Linked DNA regions of Homo sapiens. The protein of the gene in region 1 interacts with the protein of each later gene in a pairwise test. Each region holds a gene or a part of one and is shown in the gene's direction. Other genes may lie near its edges.

Region 1 (3,407 bases):
GTGTGTCCCCATCCAGAAGGCGGGGCAGGGCAGGAGGTGGGTGACGCACAGCAGAAGAAGGAGCCCCCCATGGGAGTCAGGCTAACGAGAGCCACTTAGGAACCGGGGGCTCAGGGTCTGAGCACCTGCCTTCAGAGTTGGGCGTTGAAGGTCCCCAGGGCAGGGCTGGCAGCTGGTGGCTCCCAGAGGGAGCTGGTGCTGTGCTGCCTCATGCCTGGTCCATGGTGTTGAGGGAATTGATCCCACTGCAGTGGGCGTCAGTAAGTGCAGGGCCTCACTGGGAGGTTTAGTGGGGGTCTAGCCAGAGGCCCCGGGGGTCTTCAGGAGGCTGAGCAGGGGCAGGATGGTCACTGTCCTGACAGGAACACTCAGCTGAGGGGAGGGAATCTAGCCAGCAACTCCCGTGGCTGCGGCTGCAGGAAGGAGAGCAGCCAGGCTGAGGGAGGAGCTGGACGAACATTTTCTACCCTGCCTTCTGGGGACACGACACACTGTAGTTCTGGGTGCGTCGTTGTGCCAGCACCTTGCAGTCTTGGAGGTGATGGTGTCTGCAGGATGGATTAGCCCAGCATGGAATCCAGGTGCCTCATTCACGACAAGAAGTTGCTGCTCTGAAGTCTTGCAAAGCTAAACCCCACTGCAGTGAGCACTGAGGTTCCTTGGAGCTCTGGAGGGATTCACACTGAGGTCGGAGGAGTTTCCGCTGATTGGGGCCCAGCCGCCTTCTGCCAGGCTCCCCGAGTGGCGGCACGCTGGCTCTGCCTCTGAGGCTTCTCTCCCTCCTGCTTTGCTTAGGATGTTGAGGGTTGAGACGGGCAGGGTTGGGCCCCCCAGCGTGGTTGGGATCTGCTTTAGGAACACTTCAGAGTGGGCCTGTCACTGGCTGTGTCAGGGACTGCAGGCGGCAGTGCTCATGGCCGGGCATCTGCAGTGCTCATGGCCCCCGTGCTCTAGGCCACGGACAGCATAGACCTGTTGAGTGTCACCTTGCACAACAGTCTCAGGCCAAAGCCTGGGCTCGCTCTCCTGAGATGTTCCATAGATAGAGCAGCCTGTTCCCGGCGCAGACTTGGGGGCCTGCGTTGGGAGAGGGACCGGGGAGGGCTGCTGCTAGAGTGTCCCACAAGCAGCAGAGTCGCTGGAGGGGCGGGGAGGCTGCGCCACCTGCTGGATGGGCAGGCTTCAGGCAGTCGCTGGTGCGCGGGTTACCGGCTGGGCCTGTGGTTTCCTGGCCAGGCTGAGGCTGTCTCCGTGTGCCTGTGGTCAGTCATTGCCCCCAATCCTTGGCACTTAGATAAAGTAGATGAAATCCGTGTCCATTCCCTGTGGCGGCAGAACATGCTATCCCACACTCGATGCCTTAAGGCACCCCACCCTTACTGTCTCACTGTTGCTGTGGGTCAGGGGTCCGGACTCAGCTGAGCTGTGTCTCTGCAGGTGGCCATCTCAGCTTCACCAGGCAGGGCCCGACTTCACTCAGTCTGGGTTGTCGGCAGGACAGGGGGCCTCTCTGGCTGTTGGCCAGAGGCTGCTGCTCCTGGTCCCCTGCCACCTGGGCCCCTCCACAGGGCGGCTCATGGTGCAGTAGTGGCTTTCTCCGGGCGTGCAAGCAGAGAGTGCTGGCGGGGTGGAGGCCCAGCCTTGGTGCCCTGGTTTCCATTACATTCTTTCATCTTTGCCCCGTTCTGTTAGTAGCCAGTCCTCAGGTCCAGCCAGGGTGTGGGTCCCAGGAGGTGGGCACCGTGGGGAGCCGTCCCAGAAGGCGCCCCCCACGGTCCACCGAGGACTCTGGGAGTCACGAGGTAACTCCCTGCTGCAGGGGGCCCGCTGTGGTGGCCGAGTCCCATGTTCCTGCCCCACCTGGCACCTGTCCTTGTTCCCCCATCACAGGCTCTGCCGGCGCAGACGCCAGCTTCAGCAGTCTCTACAAGGCCACGTTCGACAACGTGACCTCCTACCTGAAGAAGAAAGAGGAGAGACTGCAGCAGCAGCTAGAGAAGAAGCAGCGGCGCCGGAGTCCCCCGCCTGGGCCCGACGGGCATGCCAAGAAGATGAGACCGGGGGAGGCGACGCTAAGTTGCTGATCGTGGCGGTCAGTGGTGTCTCTCACCTCAAATTAGGAAAAGCTTTTTAACTTGTTCCCCTGCATCCTGGCATGTCCCTTCAAGAAGGAAAAGGTGACATCAGTTGTGACCAGCTCAGAGGATGGGGCTGTCCCCTGGGCTCTAGAAAGAACATTCTGTGTCACCAGCACAGGCTCTTGCTGGGTGCCTGTGCCCCCTTTCTGGTTGAAGGGAAGCCAGACCAGTGGAGTGGAAGCTCTTGAAGCACTTTCTTTTCATGTCGGAGGCTGCGTGTGAGCCGGTGGTGGCGGCAGCTGTCTGTGTTTCTCCTGTTCTCATACCGCCCTTCGTGTCCGCTGCATCTTCCTCTAGGAGCATCTGTGGGCTGACGTTTCTGGCATGGTGGATGTTTTCATGTTGTTCCGCCGTCTCAGCATCCAGGTGACGTGCTGTCCCGCAGTAGCTGCTCGCCACACAGGCTGTTGAAACTCAGCACGAATGCTTGAGCCTGCCCCAGCCCCAGCCGTAGCCCTTGTGCTCAGGAGCTGCTCCTGGAGAGTGGCTCCCTTGTGGGAAGTGAGAAACACGTTTCGGAGTCGCAGGGAGCTCTGTCTGGCATCGGTGGCACAGATGGTGAACTTGTTTCAGGAAGTGTGAGCACGGGCCTGGCTGGCACCCGGTTTACAGGGAGGTGATTGAGGACGTCGTTATGATTTGATTTGACCTTGGCACACACTGCAGAGCCACAGGGATGTTGCTGAATTTCAATCACCGATCAGCAAGGATGAACCTTCTCAACTTCCTAGGAATGTTTAGCAGCAACCGAATATACCAGGCAAAACTCCTTGGTGCCTGCGCTGTGTGTGTGTGAGGTGCGCGGTGTGATTGTGCGCTGTGTGTGTGTGAGGTGCACGCTGCGTGATCGTGTGCTGTGTGAGGTGCGCGCCGCGTGATCGTGCGCTGTGTGTGTGTGTGAGGTGCGTGGTGTGATCGTGCGCTGTGTGTGTGGTGCACGCCGCGTGATCGTGCGCTGTGTGTGTGAGGTGCGCGGTGTGATCGTGCGCTGTGTGTGAGGTGCACGCTGCGTGATCGTGTGCTGTGAGTGAGGTGCGCGCCGCGTGATCGTGTGCTGTGTGAGGTGCGCGCCGCGTGATCGTGTGCTGTGTGAGGTGTGCGCCGCGTGATCGTGCGCTGTGTGTGTGAGGTGCGCGGTGTGATCGTGTGCTGTGAGTGAGGTGCGCGCCGCGTGATCGTGTGCTGTGTGAGGTGCGCGCCGCGTGATCGTGTGCTGTGTGAGGTGCGCGCCGCGTGATCGTGTGCTGTGTGAGGTGCGCGCCGTGTGAT
Region 2 (3,500 bases), on another chromosome or scaffold:
AGTGGTACGTGCGCGGCCCCATTAGCGGCCGTGAATCCGCTCCCTGCTCAGTCCATGGGGTCTGCCCCGCCTCTTCTGCCTGATCCTGTGCTCCACGCCAGGCCGTGCCTCTCAGGCTGGGGTGCAGGTCTCACTGCTGTTCCCCAGAACTTCTCATGTCTGGGGCAGTGGTTCTGTTGGAATAGAGGTGGAGATACGCCCCCACCAACCCACTGAAGGACTTGGGGCAAACCGTTCACACCCCTTGCGTTCTCAGAGACAGGGGAGGCAGAGCCCTCCCAAAGCGGCTGCAGAAGCAGCAGGGAGACTTGGAGCGAGCTGGGACCTGGCCCTCCGCTCCTAAGGTGTGAAGTTGTAATTAAAAAAAGAGTTTTTATTTTTAATTTTTGTGGGTGCGTAGTAGGTATATATATTTATGGAGTAATAGAATTTTTTCATTCTTGAGTCTTGGAAGTTTGGTGTCTTTTTAAACTGCAGTCATGTGCAATGTAACGACGCATCCATCAATGAGATCCCGTGTATACAACGGGTACACTGCGGGCACTCTAGCTGACGTGACACTGTGTCACTGTGTGCCGAGGAAGGCGGGAACGTCCCCTTCTTGTTTGGCTTCTCCCTGATAGCCATGCTTCGTGAGATAGAACATCTGTTCCCTCCTCCAGGGTCAGTGACGAGAAAGATGCCCGGGGTTACCTTCAAGCTCTTGCTTCCAAGATGACCGAAGAGCTCGAGGCTTTGAGGAGTTCTAGTCTGGGGTCAAGAACACTGGTAGGTTTTGTGTAATGCCTGCATTTCTATTACTGAATAATTCGCTAATGGTTTTAAGTATAAATGTGACATATAAGTACTATTTAGGGAATTACAGTGATGCAAGAGACTTCTGTGTAACCAGTTCCCCAATTTAAGGAACGCCAACATTTGCCAGCTCTCAGATCATCATGGCTTCTCTCGACAGCATTCATTCGTTTAGCAAATAATTACTGAGCACTGAGCTCCGTGGTGTCAAGTTAAGACTGGATTCTGCCCTCAGAGAGCTTGCTTTTATTAATTTCATTGGTTCATTTAGTGATGTGTGTATTTTATTTTTTTCCTCCCGCGACAGTCTCACTCTGTTGCCCAGGCTAGAGTGCAGTGGCGTGATCTCGGCTTACTGCAACCTCCGCCTCCCGGCTTCAAGTGATTCTCCTGCCTCAGCCCCCCCGAGTAGCTGGGATTACAGGCGTGTGCCGCTACACCTGGCTCATTTTTGTATTTTAGTAGAGACGGGTTTCCACCATGTTGGCCAGGCTGGTCTCAAACCCCTGACCTCAGGTGATCTGCCCGCTTCGGCCTCCCAAAGTGCTGGGATTACAGGCATGAGCCCCCACACCTGGCCTTCCTCTGTCCATTTTCTTCTCTTTACTGTTATAGATGGAAAATGAAGCATTCTCAATTGTGTTCAATGAAAGGTTTTCAGTTTGTTTTAAAAAAGAAAAAACAGCAAGATGGCATCTCTGGACTTCTTTGATACCTCTCGAAAGTTGATGTCATACATTGGGCAACTCAGTAAGAAAACAGGAGGATGATGTTAGTGAACTGGCTTATTCCACTGTTGCTTCATCCTAGGTCACTCTGTCATTCTTCCCTTATTATTTTAGTCTTTTTTTTTTTTTTTTTTTTTTAATCACAGGTAGGAATGAGTAATGACATAATTCCCAGGATGGTGAAATAGCAAAACGTTTCAAGTTATGAGAAAAAGATAACCGAACCCTATAATGTACCTTAGGTTTGTAAAAGGGTCCAGGGTCCAGTGGACCCATATAGAAATTGCATTACAGAGGCCAGGCGCAGCGGCTCATGCCTGTAATCCCAGCACTTTGGGAGGCCAAGGGGGGTGGATCACGAGAGCAGGAGTTGGAGACTAGCCTGGCCAACGTGGTGAAACCCTGTCTCTACTAAAAATACAAAAATTAGCCAGGCATGGTGGTGCGGCACCTGTAATCCCAGCTACTGGCTACTGGAGAGGCTGAGACAGGAAAATCGCTTGAACCCAAGAGGCGGAGGTCGCGGTAAGCTGAGATCACGCCATTGCACTCCAGCCTAGGCAACAAGAGCGAAACTACATCTCAAACAAAAAAAAAAAGAAAAGAAAAGAAAAGAAATTGCACTACAGAATCACTTTTATTCTTCTAAAAGATAAAGTAAATTATTTAGTTATTTTTTAGAAGATTTCTGAGGAAGAGTAAAAAAAGTCATAAAATATCAAAACTAAAACTCCTGAGGCACCTCCATAATTTAGAGTTAATATCTAAATGAGACCGTAATGGCTTAAGGTTAGACAAAGATAACTTATTTGTTAACATTAGTTTAACAAGCGGATAACTGAAAATGCATTTTTAACGCCATGACCGTGTCTCAAGGACCCGCTGTGGAAGGTGCGCCGCAGCCAGAAGCTGGACATGTCCGCGCGGCTGGAGCTGCAGTCGGCCCTGGAGGCGGAGATCCGGGCCAAGCAGCTTGTCCAGGAGGAGCTCAGGAAGGTCAAGGACGCCAACCTCACCTTGGAAAGGTACTTGGTGCCAGGGTCTGACTCCAGGTAGGAGCAGTGGCTGTGTGGCCTCGAGCCCGCCCTGAGCCTCACGGGCTCCGATGCTCCTCGCCTGGAAAATCGGGGCCACGGCGTTTGCTGGAGCCTTAGGAGGCAGCACGTCGGGTTCACCTGCAGGAGCCCCGAATAGCAGGCCGTTCTGGCACTGAGGTGGCCGCGAGGGTGCAGGGCCTTGCCTGCCGCGGGGGGGTGTGGTGCGGTGCGAGCCGTGTTTTGACGGCAGCGGGTGCTTGTGCCCCCACGCTGGGTAGCGAGACTCACACCGCTGTCTGACAGGAGCCCCTCTCACTGCTTAGTCACCTCCGTGCCGCTCCATTCACTAATTCAAGATTGTTCCTTTCAAGCTAACGTGAATATTTTAAAACAGAGGTTGAAGATGGCATTCTCACTTGAAATTTTTCCCTAACTCCAAGCAGTAACGAGAACGCCATTTTCACACAGCAGTGATTCAGTCAGTATTTGCTGAGAGTCTCCTCTTTGCAGATCTGGTTTTACGAGGATACGATAATGAACGTCAGTTTCATAAAAACCAGGCCAGCTCTGCTGTGCCATGAGGCAGGCGAGGACCTGGAAGGGACAGTGTCTCTAACAGAATTACCAAGTCCCAAATCCTGTTAGTTTGGGGCTAAAAAATTAATGGTAATAGGTTTCAGTTAAATTGACTTTCTTTATACTGGGAATTGCTGTAAGACTGTTCTGTTGTTAAATCCTGTGACCCTCCCACAGCCCAACAGGGTAGGCAGTCTTGTTACTCCCACTTACACACACTCCGCAGGTGATTTGCCCACTGTCACCCCACTGATGAGTGGACCAGCCCCCACAAACTGCATCCCTCCCGGCCAGGTGTTCCCCGTGGCAGCCTGACTTCCTCTGTCCCCTGCACGAAGTTGCTGGAATTGCAAGGCTACCCGTG

The links.
Region 2: the proteins of WDR4 (region 1) and CDC42BPB interact in a two-hybrid assay, tested with the Homo sapiens proteins (one large-scale study listed by BioGRID and IntAct).

What each region holds. Positions count from the first base shown.
Region 1 is NC_000021.9:42,848,726-42,852,132, reverse strand, and holds the end of WDR4 (tRNA (guanine-N(7)-)-methyltransferase non-catalytic subunit WDR4), read left to right. Parts: intron 1-1,890; coding exon 1,891-2,084; 3' UTR 2,085-2,907; downstream 2,908-3,407. UniProt on the Homo sapiens protein: Non-catalytic component of the METTL1-WDR4 methyltransferase complex required for the formation of N(7)-methylguanine in a subset of RNA species, such as tRNAs, mRNAs and microRNAs (miRNAs).
Region 2 is NC_000014.9:102,963,550-102,967,049, reverse strand, and holds part of CDC42BPB (serine/threonine-protein kinase MRCK beta), read left to right. Parts: coding exon 1-4; intron 5-662; coding exon 663-768; intron 769-2,399; coding exon 2,400-2,548; intron 2,549-3,500. UniProt on the Homo sapiens protein: Serine/threonine-protein kinase which is an important downstream effector of CDC42 and plays a role in the regulation of cytoskeleton reorganization and cell migration. Regulates actin cytoskeletal reorganization via phosphorylation of PPP1R12C and MYL9/MLC2.